Linked DNA regions of Homo sapiens: region 2 is linked to region 1. Evidence: fine-mapped expression QTL. A gene starts in region 1. The other region holds a variant in brackets. All regions are shown on one strand. Distances are between the middles of the regions.

Region 1 (8,310 bases):
AGACAGTCGGAAGCCCTCCAGAGCCCAGGGTAGGCAGGAACGTGTTCAAAGAGGAGGAGACTCCGGACAGGGGCTGGCATGGGAGTGGGGGTAGGGAGGAGTGGGGGAAAGTGTTCTAGGGCAAAGAAGCATTGAGAAGATGTGAGGGGGACGCCTGGTTGTGGGAGAGGGAATCGCCAGAGAAGTAGAGAGTGTGTTTGGCGGGGTTAGGGTCCCTCCCAGGCAGATGGAGCCTTTTCCCAGGGGCACAACCTGGGCTGCCCTTGACTGAGCAGGTTTGAAGGTACTCTAGACCACCGGATCATCTTCACAACAGTCCCATTAACTAGACGCTCTTATTTTCATACCTTTTTGGTGAGAGAGTTTAGGTAAGGTACCCAGAGCCATGTATCAGGCAGTAAGTCACTGAACCACGATTTGAATTCAGCCGGTCTCATTCTTCTCTGCCTTGGAGTCCGGGAAATGGAGAATGTAGTGGAGGAGTCACCCCAGTCAAGGCCAAGCAGTGGGGTGGGGGTGGTGCTGGAAGAGGGGCTGGATCACAAAGGACAGGACCCGGCCAGGTATGTGTGTGCAGGAGGAGTGGAGCCCACAGTGGGATCTGAAGTCTGGGAAGGAAGGCCTCGTTGTTATACTAAAATATCATTCCTTGTTTCACCGGATGGACTGCATCTTTATTTCCTAAACCTGGCAACTGCAGCTTGGACCCCTGGAATGACACTGCACTTACAGCCACTGAGACTAGCTTAGGGACGGCAGAGGCCTGGCTCCCACTGCCGCCGGCCATCCACCCTAAGGACCCCTTCCTGAGGAAGGTCAACTCCCCTCTCTCCACGCATTTAAATAATCATCTGCCTTGCCCCAGCCACCAGCAGGAATAGCTGAATTCAAGTAAGTTAAGGGTGAACTCAGATGTGACTGCTCCCTTCCTGCCCTGCCTGGATCACAGCCCTGCCCCGGCCCCTCCCAACCTTGAGCACGACCAAACCTTTAACCTCTTTGAACCTCAGTAATCCTCATCTGCAAAATGGGAGTCAGAGTGCATCCCGGGGTCTTCGTGAACATTAACGACAGGGCCTGGCACTCAGCAAGCTCTCAGGCTCTGGAATGTTCTTCCCCAAAGAACCCTTCACTGGTTTCTCTTCATCCCTGTCTCTGCTGAAAGTCCACTCCTTAGTCAGGGTGGCCATTCCTGCCCACCTTCGCTAAGTTCCCTCGCAGTCCCTTCTGCTGCATACCCTCCTTTCCAGCCCATTCCGGGTGTCCTGTGATTGTGGGATATTCCAGCACCTTCTGAAAGGGAAGGGGCTGTTTGGTCACTTGGTGCTTAAAAGTTGGCAGGACGCAAGTGGGTGTTCAGTAAATGTTTGTTGAGTGAATGTGTGACGGTTGCTTCTGTGAGTGATTACGATGGTCCCACCATCCCTAATCCTGACTCCTCTGTGGCAACATTCCAGCCCTGCCTGCCCACACCCCCAGCCCCTGAACCTTCAGAGCAAGTAGGGGTGGCCTGCCACACTGGGGCTCTGGGCAACAGGCTGACAGCTCCCCACTGCAGGCTGGGAGCAAGCACCCTAGCCTGCCCTGCCTGGCTGGCGGGACAGAGAGAGCCTGGACACTTAATGGGGGTTGTGGTACACAGGGAGGGTCAGGATGCTGCCTTCAGGAGCCTAGGGTAGGACCTGGAAGGAGGGCCCAGCTAGGAATGGGCTAGATGAAGGGGAGGGGACAGTGGGAGAGAAGCTCCTTATCCCTCTCAGGTCGGGATGTCTGGGTTCAAGTCCCTCCTGCCCCACACCGATCAGGGAAGGGGGGCTGTTCCAGGCAGAGACCGCCCAGAGTTGGTGCTGGGATCCTGGCCAGCCTGTAGTCCTCAGAGCCCCTGTGACTGGCTGGGTCTCAAGTGCAGGAATGACAGGACACCGTCACACAGCCACTGTCGCGGCGGTGGTGGTTCAGGCAGAACCTCTGCAGACTCAGGCGGCCATCTGGCCTGGGAGCTGCCCTGAGGCCCCGCCCTGCAGCTGCTGCTGGGACCTACACAGCCCAGGGCCCTCGAGTCCTGCCCCCGGCCAGCAGCTGCAGAAGGTGACAGGGCAGGAGGCCCCTGAGCTCTGGGAGGAGGCAGCCGTCGGGCCCTTCCCTGGTGCAGCAGTTTTTGTCGGAAACATCTGGCCACAGAGCACCTCAGCAGTCCCAGCAGCAGCCGTGGGGCTGGGTTCTCTCCTGACCATTCTGTCTGGGGTGGGAGGGGGTGTTCTTGAAGAGAGGACTCTGCTTTCCCTCTGGGACGCTGGAGGAGAGGGAGATGGCCCTGCCCACTGGGAGATCCCCGTCTTGGGGGAGGGCAGTTCATGCCAAGGTGAAGACAGGACTGGAGTGTGGGGCCCACAGTGGGTTGCAGGCACCAGCAGATGCCAGGGCACCAGGCTGGGAAGACTGGGAGGCCTCCTTGGAGACAGCCAGTGCAAAATAAGCAAGAGGTCCAACCACTTCAAGAACAGCCCGCAATGTCACTGCCTCTTCCATGAGAGGGTGCCCTGCTCCCTCCCACATCCCCAAGCCTCGGCCACTTGCTGGCCTTGTCTCATGGCCCTCTTACCCTCTGCTTCCTCCCTGAATTCCTTCCTCCATCCTTGCATGGCAGAGCCCAGGATGGTGGACAGATACCAGGAACTCTTCCTCGGGGAGCAGTGGGCAGGTGGGACAGTCCCAGAGGGAGCCCCAGGTGGCTCATGGTGCAGGTTTGCTGGGTGAGAGACAGACACCAGACGCCCAGGCTCTGGGGGCAACCCTTGTGTCAGGTATCCCACCCAAGCGGCGCAGACCACTGGGCCTCTGACTTGGCCCCCTGGAGGTGGGCCCTTCCTGGGGTTACAAAGTCTGAGCTGGGAGGGAGCAGAGGTGCTCAGGCGAGAGGCAGGAATGGGGAGTCCCCTGTCTGAGGAGCGAGTGCCCTCATGCAGGGGGAGAGAGTCCTTCTCTTGGTCAGCCCCAAGAGGCAGGGATGAAGCCCGAGTTTTGGCTGCAGACTCTGTCCTGAGCACTGGGCCGAACCTGCTGCCTCTGTCTGCATCTCCTCCCACCCCCTCCCCTGCTGCCAGCTGAACTCACTCTGGCTGAAAATAAAAATGCTCCCCCAACCCCAATACTTAGCAGCCTCAGGAAGGTAACTCACAAGAGTCTGTCTTTCACAAAAGGGTTATTATCAACTGTGGGCCTCTGGAATGGGGGAGGGGCAGTTGTCGGAGGAACTTCTGGCTAGGAAGGGGTCGGGGTGGCAGTCACCTGCACTCTCCTGTGAGTGTCCAGGAGAAAGGGGTCTGTGTCCCACTTACTCATTCCATACCCGGGCCATCTGCCTCCCAGTGGACTTCGGACTGGGTGTCCGGGCTGACCAAGTCCACCCAGCAGGGAGGGCTCTGGGCTGTCAGCTGTCACAGCCCACCCTAGACACCGCTCCTCCTCTGTCTGGTGTCTGCTCCCAGCTCAAGGTGGGAGCCAGGCAAGGTGTGCCCCTCTTCTCCCACTCCCCAGCAAAGTCCCCCTTTTGTGAGTGTAGCTGCCAGTACCTAGGTGAATGGTTGACTCCCCTCGGAGCCTTCCTGCTCCTTGGAGGCCCACCTCCAACTGACCTCCTGTCCTGGCATCCTCCCGCACTTCCCCCAGAGGCACAAGGTCTTGGGATTGGGCCTTTTAGGTCACTCTTGGCCGCCCCCTCCACGCCCCCCAGAGTGGGGCAGCCTGAAAGTCAACCTAAGCCACCCCCGCCCCGCGCGCGGAGGCAGAAGTCCGGGATTCGTCCCTGACCTGTCTCGGGCCCCTTCTGCTAGGGTCACGGCAGAGCGAGCCCAGAAGCGCCGGGTCACTTTACAGACGGGGAAACTGAGGCCAGAGAGGGCGTGGCCCCGGGACGGGCTGGCTGGTGGCCGGGCTCCGTTAGCGGCCCAGCCCAGGCCCCAGGTCGTCGGGAGCTGCCCCTCAGCCCGGCCGCGCGCTCCCCGAGCGCGCTCCGCCCTCGCCGCCGGCCGCGCGGTGGGGACGCCCCGGGCGGCGGAGGCGGATGTGGGCGGGCGGCTCCGGGCGCGGGGCGGGCGCGGGGCGGGGAGAGGGCGGGCCGGCGGCGGCGGCAGGACCGAGCGCGGCAGGCGGCTGGCCCAGCGCACGCAGCGCGGCCCGAAGACGGGAGCAGGCGGCCGAGCACCGAGCGCTGGGCACCGGGCACCGAGCGGCGGCGGCACGCGAGGCCCGGCCCCGAGCAGCGCCCCCGCCCGCCGCGGCCTCCAGCCCGGCCCCGCCCAGCGCCGGCCCGCGGGGATGCGGAGCGGCGGGCGCCGGAGGCCGCGGCCCGGCTAGGCCCGCGCTCGCGCCCGGACGCGGCGGCCCGGTGAGTCCCCGCCCGCCGTGGCCGCCCGGGCCTGGATTTCCTCCCCGCGGGCCGGGCCGCTTTGTTCGCGGCCGGTCGGGCCGGGGCGCGAGCCGCGGCGCCGCCAGAATGGAGGAGCGGGAGCAGGAAGTGGCCGAGCGGGCCTGGGCGGGGAGGGCGCGGGGCGCGCGGGCCCGGCCAAGGGAGGGCGGCCCCACGCCGGGCGCCGGGGGTGCAGGCTGCCGGCCCCAGCCTCCCTCATGACCTTGGGGAGGCCGCTCCGCCGGGCGAGGCCGGGACCCGAGAGAAGGGACGCCGCCGGGCCTGGAGCTGGGGCTCGGGGTGCCCCTGCGGGCCGTGGGGCTCCCCGGGCGCTGGGCCAGCGAGGCAGCCGGCGGAGGTGCCCCGGGGTTGGAGAAAGACTCGCCGCGGCCGGCCTTCAAGTTTGTGGGAGGGCCCCGGAAGGAGACTTCGTTTCCCACGGACGAAAAGTTGTACGTGGTGGCGGGGTACCCAGGCTAGCCACAAAGGACTGTGACCCTCCTGGGCCCCGGAACTGCTTCCTGTCTTGGGTGGGCCCTGGAGGTCCTGCCCGCCCATCCCAGAGGCCAAGGCTTGGAGGGCAGCTGGGGCTTGCCCCTTAGATTGAGTATCCTGGGGCGCTAGCGAGCTTGGTCCTGTCGGGACGGCCTCTGAGTGCTGCCTTGGTCAGCGGGTGAGCTTGGGCCCCTGCTCTGCAGCCAGAGGCCGCCCCACATTCACTCCTGGGTCTCTCGGCCTTGCTCCAGGTGGCCACTTCTTGACTGCTTTGAGTCCCTCATCCGAGCGAAGGGCGGACGGAGTCCGTTGGTGGGGGTCCGGTTGCCTCTCCCGGGAGCTGTGTAGACTTCTCATACACCAGGGTTCTGGAGGCAGATGGAGGAGCCCTTTCGAAAACAGAGTATTTTTTTTTAAGTTGTGACTTAATAATAGTAGCAAGAATATGTGCTTATGGTAAAGGCAGGCGGCAGGTACGGAGGCTGTGGGAAGTCGGGGTCCCTCCGCCCCCACAGGCAGCCCTGTGCTGGCCTGGTGTATACGTTTCTGTGCAGACGTACACCACCCTGTGTGAGCACAGATGTATTTTTACACATGGCTCTGGACAGCTGTCTGACTCTGTCAGCAGCAGGCCTTGGAGGGGCTCAGGCCCGTGTGGGGGTGGGGGGACATCCAGAGGTCTTTGAGTCCAGCCCTCTGCCTCCAGGCCACGCCCACTCAGTGTCGTCAGAGCCCCCTGTGCCTGAGGCGTGCGCGGCTCGGAGCCCTGCCCTCGGAGTCCTGCGGTGCCTTCCTCGAGTCTGGCCTGCTTTCCATCCTGCTAAGTACTTGGGGCATTTCCCTCTTTGGGTAAGGTGTGGTCTTCCCTGTCCTGGCATTAGACACAAGGCAGTGGGCCTTCCTGCCATTCTAAGTGTAGCTTAAGACAATCAGTGCAAAGCAACCCTTTGTGGGTGTCCAGCCCTTGCCTCGGGAGGCCAGAAAGGTGGCCTGGGGGGAGAGCGTCTAAGCTGGCTGTGGAAAGACCCATGTTGGGATCCATTCCACAGAGGTCGTCAGGGGTCTCTGCCTGGCCTGGAGGTCCCAGAGAGGACCCTCCTCCCCTCAGGAAGGCCCATCTGGAAGGGTAGCAGAGGACTGCTCACAGGAAGAGCATGCGAAGTGCTCTTTCTGGGGATGCCTGTAGTTGGTGATGTGGGAACTGGGTTTTGAGGGATGCCTAGGAGTTCATCCATCAGAGGGGAAATGAGGAAGCCATGCAGGATCAATGGATAAAGTGTGCTCAGGTGAGGGTTGGCTGGTGGGCCGCTGCAGGGCGGGGGCCTGTCCAGTGCTCCCCCACTTACTTGCTGCCTCCCGACTGCTGTAATTATGGGTCTGTAACCACCCTGGACTGGGTGCTCCTCACTGACGGACTTGTCTGAACCTCTCTTTGTCTCCAGCGCCCAGCACTGGGCCTGGCAAAACCTGAGACGCCCGGTACATGTTGGCCAAATGAATGAACCAGATTCAGACCGGCAGGGGCGCTGTGGTTTAGGAGGGGCCTGGGGTTTCTCCCAGGAGGTTTTTGGGCTTGCGCTGGAGGGCTCTGGACTCCCGTTTGCGCCAGTGGCCTGCATCCTGGTCCTGTCTTCCTCATGTTTGAATTTCTTTGCTTTCCTAGTCTGGGGAGCAGGGAGGAGCCCTGTGCCCTGTCCCAGGATCCATGGGTAGGAACACCATGGACAGGGAGAGCAAACGGGGCCATCTGTCACCAGGGGCTTAGGGAAGGCCGAGCCAGCCTGGGTCAAAGAAGTCAAAGGGGCTGCCTGGAGGAGGCAGCCTGTCAGCTGGTGCATCAGGTTAGGGAGGCTGGGAAGGCCTTTTGGGGATGGGGGTGATTTGTCCAACGGCTGGGGGAGGTGGGAATGGGGAGGTGAGCAAGGCAGCAGCTCTCAGGGCCTGGCTGTTGCGGGTGGTGGTGGCAGGGGCTGGAGGCTCTAAGCCTAGAATAAGGAGAGGCCCAGGTCCAGGGAACTGTGTTCAATTACATGGATTTGACACTTGGCAGCCCTGAGTGTTTTGGGGAGAGGGAAGGCAGGCGGGCAGATGGGGGTCAGAGAGCTTAGAGGGATGGCAGCCCACCTGGGAAGGCAGGTGCGGGTGGAGCCCCCAGGCACGTGCAGTGGGTCTCTGGCTCACCCAGGGCGAGGAGCTGCCCTTAGCCAGGCGTGGCCTCACATTCAGCTTCCTTTGCTTCTCCCAGAGGCTGTGGCCAGGCCAGCTGGGCTCGGGGAGCGCCAGCCTGAGAGGAGCGCGTGAGCGTCGCGGGAGCCTCGGGCACCATGAGCGACGTGGCTATTGTGAAGGAGGGTTGGCTGCACAAACGAGGTTAGTACCCGCTGCCAGGGCTGGGCCTGGGGAGGGAGAGATGGGGGTAGTAGCCCCAGGGTCTGTGAGTGCCTGTGCCCTGCTGGGTGGGAGGGGCTGCCTCCCCTGGGGCTCCTGGGCTGGCCTAGGGTGAGTGTCCTGGGCCCCATGTCTTCCCATGGCATGGAGGGCACGGCCTCGGGGAGGCCAGGAGGATGAGGCCCTGTGCAGGGCCGGCCATCTGAGTGGCTTCCTGGTGTGGGCCCTGGCAGGCGGGGGAGCTGCTGCCAGCCTCTCTCCTGGCTTTCCTGGAAGGCAGCGAGGACACTGGGCTGTTCCAGGGTCTGGCACGCTGGCGGCCCAGGGCACTGCCCAAGGGCTCCTGAGGGCAGGGCAGGGCTGCTTGGCTTGGCCTGGTGCCTGCTTCAGGCCTGAGCTTTGGGGGTGGGGGGAATCCGTACCGCCTGGGCACAGGGCATGTTTGCCTTGGAGCTGCAGAGCTGGCTGAGCCAAGTCCCCCAGCCCCTGTGTCCCCCTCCTCACTCATTTGGCCTTGCAGCCTATGGAGGAGGTGCTGCCCGAGGGGCCTGGCCAGCAGCTGGGTGGGATGGGAGCTGGGGACATAGCCCCACCCCTTCCAACCCTGTGCAGGCCCTTCTGCCTCACCCACCCTCCGTTGCTCAGCGGGGTGCGGTGGAGTCTGGGTGGCTGTTTTGCTCCTCTGTCCTGCTAGGGTGGGCTTCCTGTTCAGGTCCAGGTCCTCTGGCCAAGTCACTCTCTTCTGCCCCAGGCGGAATCGGTCCGCCCTCTCCTGACTTCTTTTTCCAGACTTGTTCCCTCCTAAGTTCTAGTGATCTCATGCCAGCAGCCCCCCGGCTTTACGTACACCCTCTAGCAGATGGGTTTCACATCTGGTAGTGGGGAGACCCCAAACACAGCTGGAGCAGACAGGGAGGTGTGGCAAAAGTAGGTGTCACAAGATGGGGCATTGTGGGATGTATAGGAGCTCACAGAAGAGCAGGCCTAAGGAGCCACAGGAGCCTGGGGGTGGGGTGAAG
Region 2 (8,310 bases), 22 kb after region 1:
TCGGTTGGGGCTGGGGGCTTCAGGGATCAGGGAGAGGCTGGGTGCCAGCAGCGTGCCTGGTGGCACCTGGGACAGGGCCTTGCTGGGGGTGGGTGCTGTGGGTGTGCTCGCCAGGCCGAGGCATTGGGAAGGAACGAGGTGGGGAGCTCTCTGGAGAGGCACACGGGTGGGTACCAGCTGGAGGTGTTGCCTGAGCAGCTGGCAAGGCTGGGGCCTTCAGATTAGGCCATAGGTGAGTGGCCTGGAGCGCCTGGCCAAGGAGCAGAGCTGGGCAGGGGCCAGGGGCTGTGCTGGGCCTCTGTCCGGGGCTTTTCTCCGGGGAACGGTTCCGGGGCAGTGGGCTCGAGACTCTGGCCCTGGGGATTGCATACTGGGGCAGATCGGACCATCCAGGAGCGAGTGGGAGGTGGGTGTGCCGGGGCTTCACACCGGTTTCCACTTCTCTGGCCTGTGTTGACACAGGCCACCCTCCCCACCAGGCTGGTCCCGAGCCCCCTCCTGGCCCCCAGGCCTGGAAGACAGCTTCCTTGCTGCCTGGCCAGGCCCCCTTGTGGTTGCCAGGGCCTCGATGCTGGAATGTCAGAGGCCCCCCACTGGCCCCTCAGCCTCCTCCTGCTTTGCACAGGCTGGGCCAGAGCCTGCCACGGAGCCCCAGCGGCTACACACTCCACTCACTCACACCTCTCAGGGCCCCGCACGTTCCCACAGCCCTCAGGGTGTACGTGCTGTAGGTGTGGCTGTGCCCCAGGTATGTGTTCCCCAGGTGTGCTTGTGCCCCAGGTGTGGCTGTGCCCCAGGTGTGCGTGTGCCCCAGGTGTTCGTGTGCCCCAGATGTGGCTAGGTGTCTAGATGTGTTCTAGATGTCTGTGTATTCCAGTGTGGCTGTGTCCCAGGTGTGCGTGTGCCCCAGGTGTGTGCCTCAGGTGTGCGTGTGCCCCAGGTGTGGCTTTGCCTCCAGTGTGTGTGTGCCCCAGATGTATGTGTGCCCCAGGTGTGGCTGTGCCCCAGGTGTGCCTGTGCCCCAGGTGTGGCTGTGCCCCAGGTGTGCCTGTGCCCCAGGTGTGGGTGTGCCCCAGGTGTGGGTGTGCTCCAGGTGGCTGTATTTCCCAGGTACTCAGGGTGAGGTTGGGAAAAAAGCAGGACATTTCTACACTAGGTGGGACAAGCAGGTTTCTGGGGTGCCCCCCTCATGCCAGCCCCTCTGTGGGATCTCCATACCCCTCATCCTCTGAGGCCTGGCGCACGGCGGGGCTCAGAGACTGAAGGAAGGACTGTAGGAGTGGACGATGGTGGGGGTTTGACCTGACGCCGGGCCAGATGCCCTGTGTGGCTGCCTCAGCCTGGAGTAGAGTGTCTGAGCTGGAACAGGGGTCCTAGCCCCACTCTGTGAGGCGAGAAACTGAGGCTTGGAGAGAGGAAGAGATGGGGCTTCCCAGGACCTGGTGGGTGGTATGCAAGGGGAGCTGGCTGGTGCAGCGGGGGCTGTGGTGAGGGCCCTGGGAGGGGCAGGGGGATGCACGCAGACAGAGGCTCTGCCTGCCCGCAGAGTGCCAGCTGATGAAGACGGAGCGGCCCCGGCCCAACACCTTCATCATCCGCTGCCTGCAGTGGACCACTGTCATCGAACGCACCTTCCATGTGGAGACTCCTGAGGAGCGGTACGTGGGCTGTGGCGGCCAGGCCAGGCACTTGGGCAGCCCCAGCGCTTAGGAGGGACACGGGGATGGCGGGGTGCTGGCACCTCTGCCTGTAGCCATCCTCACTCCCCAGTGCTCCCAGGCCCTCCTCAGAGCCCAGTTTGGAAACTGGCCCAGTCCTGCCTGTGGGGTTTGGGTGGGGAAACTGAGGCTGGAGATAAAAACTGGCTAGGGACCGGGTGCAGTGGCTCACGTCTATAATCTCGGCACTTTGGGAGGCCGAGGTGCGCAGATCACTTGAGACCAGGAGTTTGAGACTAGCCTGCCAACATGGTGAAACCCCCGTCTCTACTAAAAATATAAAACTTAGCTGGGTGTGGTGGTGCACACCTGTAATCCCGGCTACTTGGGAGGCTGAGGCACAAGAATCGCTTGAACCCGAGAGGCAGAGGCTGCAGGAGCCGAGATTTTACCACTGCACTCCAGCCAGGGCGATAGAGCAAGACTCCGTCTCAAAAAAAGAAAAACCCGGTGGAGAGGGCCAGTCCTCCTTGGGGGGCGGAGTCCTGCTTGGGAGGCGGAGTCCTGCTTGGGGGGGGCGGAGTCCTGCTGGGGGGCGGAGTCCTGCTGGGGGTTGGAGTCCGGTTGTGGGGACAGAGTCCTGCTGGGGGGCTAAGCCTGGGTGTCCCCCACGTCCAAGAGGGCTTCGTGACCCTGAGTGTATGTGGCCAGACCAGGTCAAGTGGTGGCCTCCTCAGGGCTGTCTCTGGGAACCCCGACAGCTGTGGAACCACGCTTGTGAGGCTGGCGGGTGGGTGAAAGACGTGGGGTGGAGCTCCTGATCTGGTACAGGCCTGCAGCCTCACCTGACCTCCTGCAGGGAGGAGTGGACAACCGCCATCCAGACTGTGGCTGACGGCCTCAAGAAGCAGGAGGAGGAGGAGATGGACTTCCGGTCGGGCTCACCCAGTGACAACTCAGGGGCTGAAGAGATGGAGGTGTCCCTGGCCAAGCCCAAGCACCGCGTGGTGAGGCCTGTCCCCACTTCTGCCTGTGCCTGGGGCTGCCTTGGACTGTGGAGGGCTGGGTGGGTCATGGGGTCCCAGCTCGGCCCAGGAGACACTCAGCACTCCACGGCATCTCCACCTAGGCCGGTTTTCCATGTAGGGCGCAGCTGCTTCCCAGGTGGGTCCTCTTCCCCATGTCAGAGGAAAACTGGGGTTGCTGAGCCCTGCCAGGCTTGGGCAATGTTACCCCACCCTTCCCTGAACCCCATGCTCTGAGCTGGGGCCGCAGCCATGTGTTCCCTGTAAGCCTGGACTCCCCGCTGAGCCCAGTAGGCCACCAGGTGTGAAGTGGACGCCTCTCCTGGCTCTGCCTCCGACTCTGGGGCCCCTCATGCCACCCCACGCATGCCGACCAGCTGGGCACTGTTGGCAGCGCCGCTTGCTGACCCTGGTGCCTGCCCATAGACCATGAACGAGTTTGAGTACCTGAAGCTGCTGGGCAAGGGCACTTTCGGCAAGGTGATCCTGGTGAAGGAGAAGGCCACAGGCCGCTACTACGCCATGAAGATCCTCAAGAAGGAAGTCATCGTGGCCAAGGTGGGGCCGGGGCGGTGGGGCAGGGTGGAGATGAGGGTGCGGGGTGGCAGCTCACCCAGCCCTGCTTTACAGGACGAGGTGGCCCACACACTCACCGAGAACCGCGTCCTGCAGAACTCCAGGCACCCCTTCCTCACAGTGAGTGGGAGCCCAGATGGGGCTGAAGGGCTGGGGCCAGGTAGCGACTCCTGGGGCTGTCTCTAGGGGACGATGTCCTGTCTTCTTGGGCACGTGAGGGCTTTACACACCGTGGACTCCGCCGCTGGTGAGACAGGCCTGCCCTGGAGGGTCAGGCTGTGGAGGTGCCCAGTGTGGGCTAGGGGCTGTGCTCGCTGCTCCCGTGTGCGGGCAGGTGGGTGGGGCAGGTGGCCCTGGTCTTCCTTGCACTCTGCCGAGGCTCCAGGAGGCCCCAGCTCCCCATGCCCTGCAGCCCTGCCTGCCAGGCTTTTGTTGAGGCCCGGGCTCTGTCCTGCAGAACCTGTTCTGGGGACTTGGCCCAGGAGGTATTTACTGTGAAGGGGGCCAGG[G/C]TCCAGCCACTTGGTTAGTTCCAGGTCACTGTGTTTGGGGACGATTCTCCTGCAGATGGGGCCTTTGCTTTAAAAGCACAGTCGCCTGTGGTGGAAGGCGGGAGGGTGGGTCTCGCCTGGGAGGGTGTGTCCTCCCTTTGCGAAGGCCCTGGTGCTGGGAGCACTGTCCCCTGCTGAGGTCCCAACTCACCCTGGAGGACCTGAGCCCAGGCCACCTTGCTCACCTTTCAAACACTCCTTGGCACCTCAGGGGCTGCCGGGGCCCAGCCTGATGGTGGCGTGGCATGAGGCAGTGTGGTGTGGGGCAGTGTGGTGTGGGGCAGCGTGGCATGGGGGCAGTGTGATGTGGGGGTGTATGGTGTGGGGCAGTGTGATGGGGTGTGTGGTGTGGGGCAGTGTGGTATCGGGCGGTGTGGTATCAGGCAGCGTGGTGTCGGGCAGTGTGGTGTGGGGCTACGGGCGGTGTGGTATCAGGCGACGTGGTATCAAGCAGCGTGGTGTCGGGCAGCGTGGTGCGGGGCTGCCGTCCTGCCTGTGGGGCCGCAGTTCCAGCTCCCCTTCCTTGCAGGCCCTGAAGTACTCTTTCCAGACCCACGACCGCCTCTGCTTTGTCATGGAGTACGCCAACGGGGGCGAGGTAGGGGCTGGGGCTGCGGGGGATGGACTTCGCGGCCTGTGGGCCGCCCATGGTGGGGCCGGTCCTTCCCGGAGCCTCGGCTACTCTCCATGGCACCAGACGGTGCTCCCTGCTGGGTGGGTGGTGTGATGCCTGCCCAGGCAGCTGCCTGCTGTGGGGTGACTTGTTCCTGCTGAGTTAGGGCTTCTGAGACTTTCCAGGCCCCCGTGCCCTCTGGTGGCTGGTCCCTTCCCTGTGCAATGCCGAGACCCGGTCTGAGAAACCCCAGCCCTGCAGGCCATGGGGGCAGAGGCCCGAGCCACGGCTGTGCCTCAGGTTGCGCCTCCCGCAGCTGTTCTTCCACCTGTCCCGGGAGCGTGTGTTCTCCGAGGACCGGGCCCGCTTCTATGGCGCTGAGATTGTGTCAGCCCTGGACTACCTGCACTCGGAGAAGAACGTGGTGTACCGGGACCTCAAGGTGCGCTGGCGGGCAGGCAGGGGGGCAGGGCCCTGGGGGCCTGGCGGCACTGACCTGAGGCCACCTTTCCCCTAGCTGGAGAACCTCATGCTGGACAAGGACGGGCACATTAAGATCACAGACTTCGGGCTGTGCAAGGAGGGGATCAAGGACGGTGCCACCATGAAGACCTTTTGCGGCACACCTGAGTACCTGGCCCCCGAGGTGTGCGCCCCACCTGCGTGCATACGCGTTGCTGCGTCCCCACGTCCTGAGCACACGCAATGCTGTGTCCTCTCTGTGCCCCAAGCACGTCACACCTCCCCCGGCAGTGTCCCGGACACCCCTTGATGCCGAGTCCTGCCCATCTGCCACCCGTGCAGGTGCTGGAGGACAATGACTACGGCCGTGCAGTGGACTGGTGGGGGCTGGGCGTGGTCATGTACGAGATGATGTGCGGTCGCCTGCCCTTCTACAACCAGGACCATGAGAAGCTTTTTGAGCTCATCCTCATGGAGGAGATCCGCTTCCCGCGCACGCTTGGTCCCGAGGCCAAGTCCTTGCTTTCAGGGCTGCTCAAGAAGGACCCCAAGCAGAGGTGAGGGCCGCCCATCCCAGCTACAGGCTACACCTCCATCCCCTCATCCCCAGGCTGCACCTGCCCCTGCGCCAGGCGGTCCTGGCACCTCCCAGACTACACTGATAGCCAAAGCTTGATGTCCTTGGCCAGGGCTGATCTCCAAAGCCTCAGGCCCAAGCAGAGTGGCGGGCAGGCCGGGGTCAGTTGGGCCTCTGTCCCCAACCCTGCAGCCTGCACCCACCCACTCAGGAAGCCCCTGCCCTGCCGTGAGCTCTGTGGTGCTTTGCTACCCACAGCTGCTCAGGGACGCTGCACCACCGGCTCCCCTCCCTGGCCCCGGAACGTCCTGTCTGGCGGGCCCTACATCACAGGAGGAAGGGGCCTGAACCCAGGGCCTGGGCAGGTGGCGGTACCGACACTGTGGCCTTGTTTCCTGCCTGCAGGCTTGGCGGGGGCTCCGAGGACGCCAAGGAGATCATGCAGCATCGCTTCTTTGCCGGTATCGTGTGGCAGCACGTGTACGAGAAGAAGGTGCGGCTGCTCCCCGCATATTCACGCGCACGCATGCTCCCCACATATCCACACTCACGCATGCACGTGGCACGCTCGCCAGATTTCCCACACACTCGCCCTCACCTCAGGAGCCTGCTGCAGTCCTGGTACAAGGAGGGCCTTGCTGCACCAACCTCAGCGCCTGGTGCTCAGAGGCTCTGGCACTGCCGGGTTCCACCAGGAAACTGGCCTGGTCCTCATTTCCTCCTCCCCTCGGAGGTGTGTCACACTCTGAGTTTCCTCCTCCCCTCGGAGGTGTGTCACACTCTGAGTGCCAGCCTTGGGGTTCCCTTCCCTGACGCTGTGCAGTGAAGGCTGGCTGGTGGTGGACCAGGGGTGCTGCCCCTTGGCCTCCACGAGTTCCTCCTGTTTGACCTCAATCCCTTCTGCCGCAAGGAGAGCCCAGCCCTATTTCTGGCTGTGCAGGGACAGGGACAGCACCTACTTTTCTGGCACATGGGGGAGTCCGCCCTGGAGGGAGGCAGCTCTTTCTGCATGAGTCGCCATCCTGGGTGCTCATCTTTCAGGGACCCTAGGAGCCCTGGCCATCACCCCAGCTGATGGGGTCTGCCAGCTGGGTTCGGAAGCCTGCACTCTGAGATGCTGGGTGCCCTGTCACCAGGTGTGCTTCTGCCCCGTTCCCAGCCTGCCCCTCCCCTGAATGCCTGTCCTAGGCTGTGTGCAGCTGGTCGGGCTGGGCAGCCCTGGGACCCAGCTGGGCACCTGTTCTCCCATTAACACAGGGTGCCCTGGTCCTGGTCCCCGTTCCTGCCTTGAGGCCTGCCACCCTCCTGCCCTGCCCTCCAAGGGTATGGGGGGCCTGGGCAGTGCTCAACCTCTGCCCAGCCTTGACCAGAGACCTTGCTAATTGACAATGGACAATGCTGGTGCCCAGCCCAGACTCTGGGGTGGGGCAGTGCTTGAGGGGGTCCTTGACTGTGGGACCTGAGGGGCTCTCTGGCAGCTCCTCACGTGTGCACATCACCTTATAGTCACCCTTCATCCTGGGTCATTGAGAGTCCTGTCTGCAGCCAGATGCCAGCAGGCTGTGGTCCTGTAGTCCCTGAGCCATGGAGGCAGGGTGGGCTCATCCTGTGCACCTTGTTCCACAGTCTCCCTCTTTCCCAATTTACAAGAAGACCAATAAGAAAAATAAGAAAACAAGAAAGAAAAAGGAAAAATAAAGTTATCACCTCCTGGTAGCAGGGAGGGTCTCTCAGAGCTGGGCTGCACTACCTCCTGTCGCCTGCTGGGGCTGCTGTGAGGGCAGCTTTGCGTCTCAGCTGTTGAGGGTTGTCTCCGTGCTCCTGCACCCCTCATGTCCCTCCCTCCCAGAGCTGCCTCTGTGGGGGGCTGGTGGCTTGCTGCTCTCTGACATCAGTCCTGCCTGGAGACCCCTTGGAGATCCAGGTGCTTTGAAGGTCTTGAGCACACTTGAGGGTGTGCTGGGAGTGGGGAGCGAAGCTCATGACTGTCCCGTCTGCCCACCTCTGCAGCTCAGCCCACCCTTCAAGCCCCAGGTCACGTCGGAGACTGACACCAGGTATTTTGATGAGGAGTTCACGGCCCAGATGATCACCATCACACCACCTGACCAAGGTGAGGGGCCACTGCCTGCCCCCGCCCACTCCCTTTTCTCTCCACACTCAGAGAGGCCTGCAGTGTTCAGCTTTTTTGGCTTCAGATGTTTTAAAATCTAAATATTTAAAAAGGTTCCTTTTGGAGAGTGCCAATGATCAGGGTGGGAGGCAGTGCTCTGAGGGCCCAGGTCCCTGTGTCAATCTGTGGGGCCCTGTCTCAGTTTCCTGGCAGTATGGCAGCGTGCTGGCCGTGCTTTAAGAGGTTGGCTTCCTACTGGAGCTGTGGGTGGGTGGAGGTGGCAGGGAGGTGGGGCACCGGGGTCTGAGCTGTCTACACCCACAGATGACAGCATGGAGTGTGTGGACAGCGAGCGCAGGCCCCACTTCCCCCAGTTCTCCTACTCGGCCAGCGGCACGGCCTGAGGCGGCGGTGGACTGCGCTGGACGATAGCTTGGAGGGATGGAGAGGCGGCCTCGTGCCATGATCTGTATTTAATGGTTTTTATTTCTCGGGTGCATTTGAGAGAAGCCACGCTGTCCTCTCGAGCCCAGATGGAAAGACGTTTTTGTGCTGTGGGCAGCACCCTCCCCCGCAGCGGGGTAGGGAAGAAAACTATCCTGCGGGTTTTAATTTATTTCATCCAGTTTGTTCTCCGGGTGTGGCCTCAGCCCTCAGAACAATCCGATTCACGTAGGGAAATGTTAAGGACTTCTGCAGCTATGCGCAATGTGGCATTGGGGGGCCGGGCAGGTCCTG

Alleles and levels. Positions count from the first base shown, and alleles are read on the strand shown. Sizes are in standard deviations (SD) of each study's normalised expression.
For the expression in thyroid of the gene that starts at base 4,123 in region 1, allele C in region 2 goes with a higher level than allele G (moderate effect, 0.69 SD a copy in GTEx).

What was found. PIP is the estimated chance that this variant, and not a neighbour inherited with it, causes the effect.
Region 2: its variant is fine-mapped to the expression of AKT1 in thyroid (GTEx, PIP above 0.99).

The regions. Positions count from the first base shown.
Region 1 is chr14:104,791,561-104,799,870 of GRCh38, reverse strand. It overlaps AKT1 (AKT serine/threonine kinase 1), which reads left to right and starts at 4,123. Exons shown (of 15, transcript NM_001382430.1): 1 at 4,123-4,387; 2 at 6,567-6,744; 3 at 7,149-7,273. The coding sequence starts at 7,228. RefSeq lists enhancers at 1,429-2,201, 2,202-2,974, 5,016-5,657, 5,658-6,297, 6,298-6,939 and 1 more and silencers at 3,812-4,171, 4,352-4,401, 4,432-4,751.
Region 2 is chr14:104,770,007-104,778,316 of GRCh38, reverse strand. AKT1 (AKT serine/threonine kinase 1) reads left to right here. Exons shown (of 15, transcript NM_001382430.1): 5 at 1,547-1,658; 6 at 2,518-2,665; 7 at 3,110-3,241; 8 at 3,314-3,379; 9 at 4,337-4,405; 10 at 4,737-4,862; 11 at 4,938-5,066; 12 at 5,225-5,439; 13 at 5,865-5,952; 14 at 7,470-7,572; 15 at 7,897-8,310. The coding sequence ends at 7,976. Among named protein-coding and RNA genes, the nearest start is that of SIVA1, 21 kb to the right of the region's middle. The variant G/C (reference allele first, on the strand shown) is at 3,769.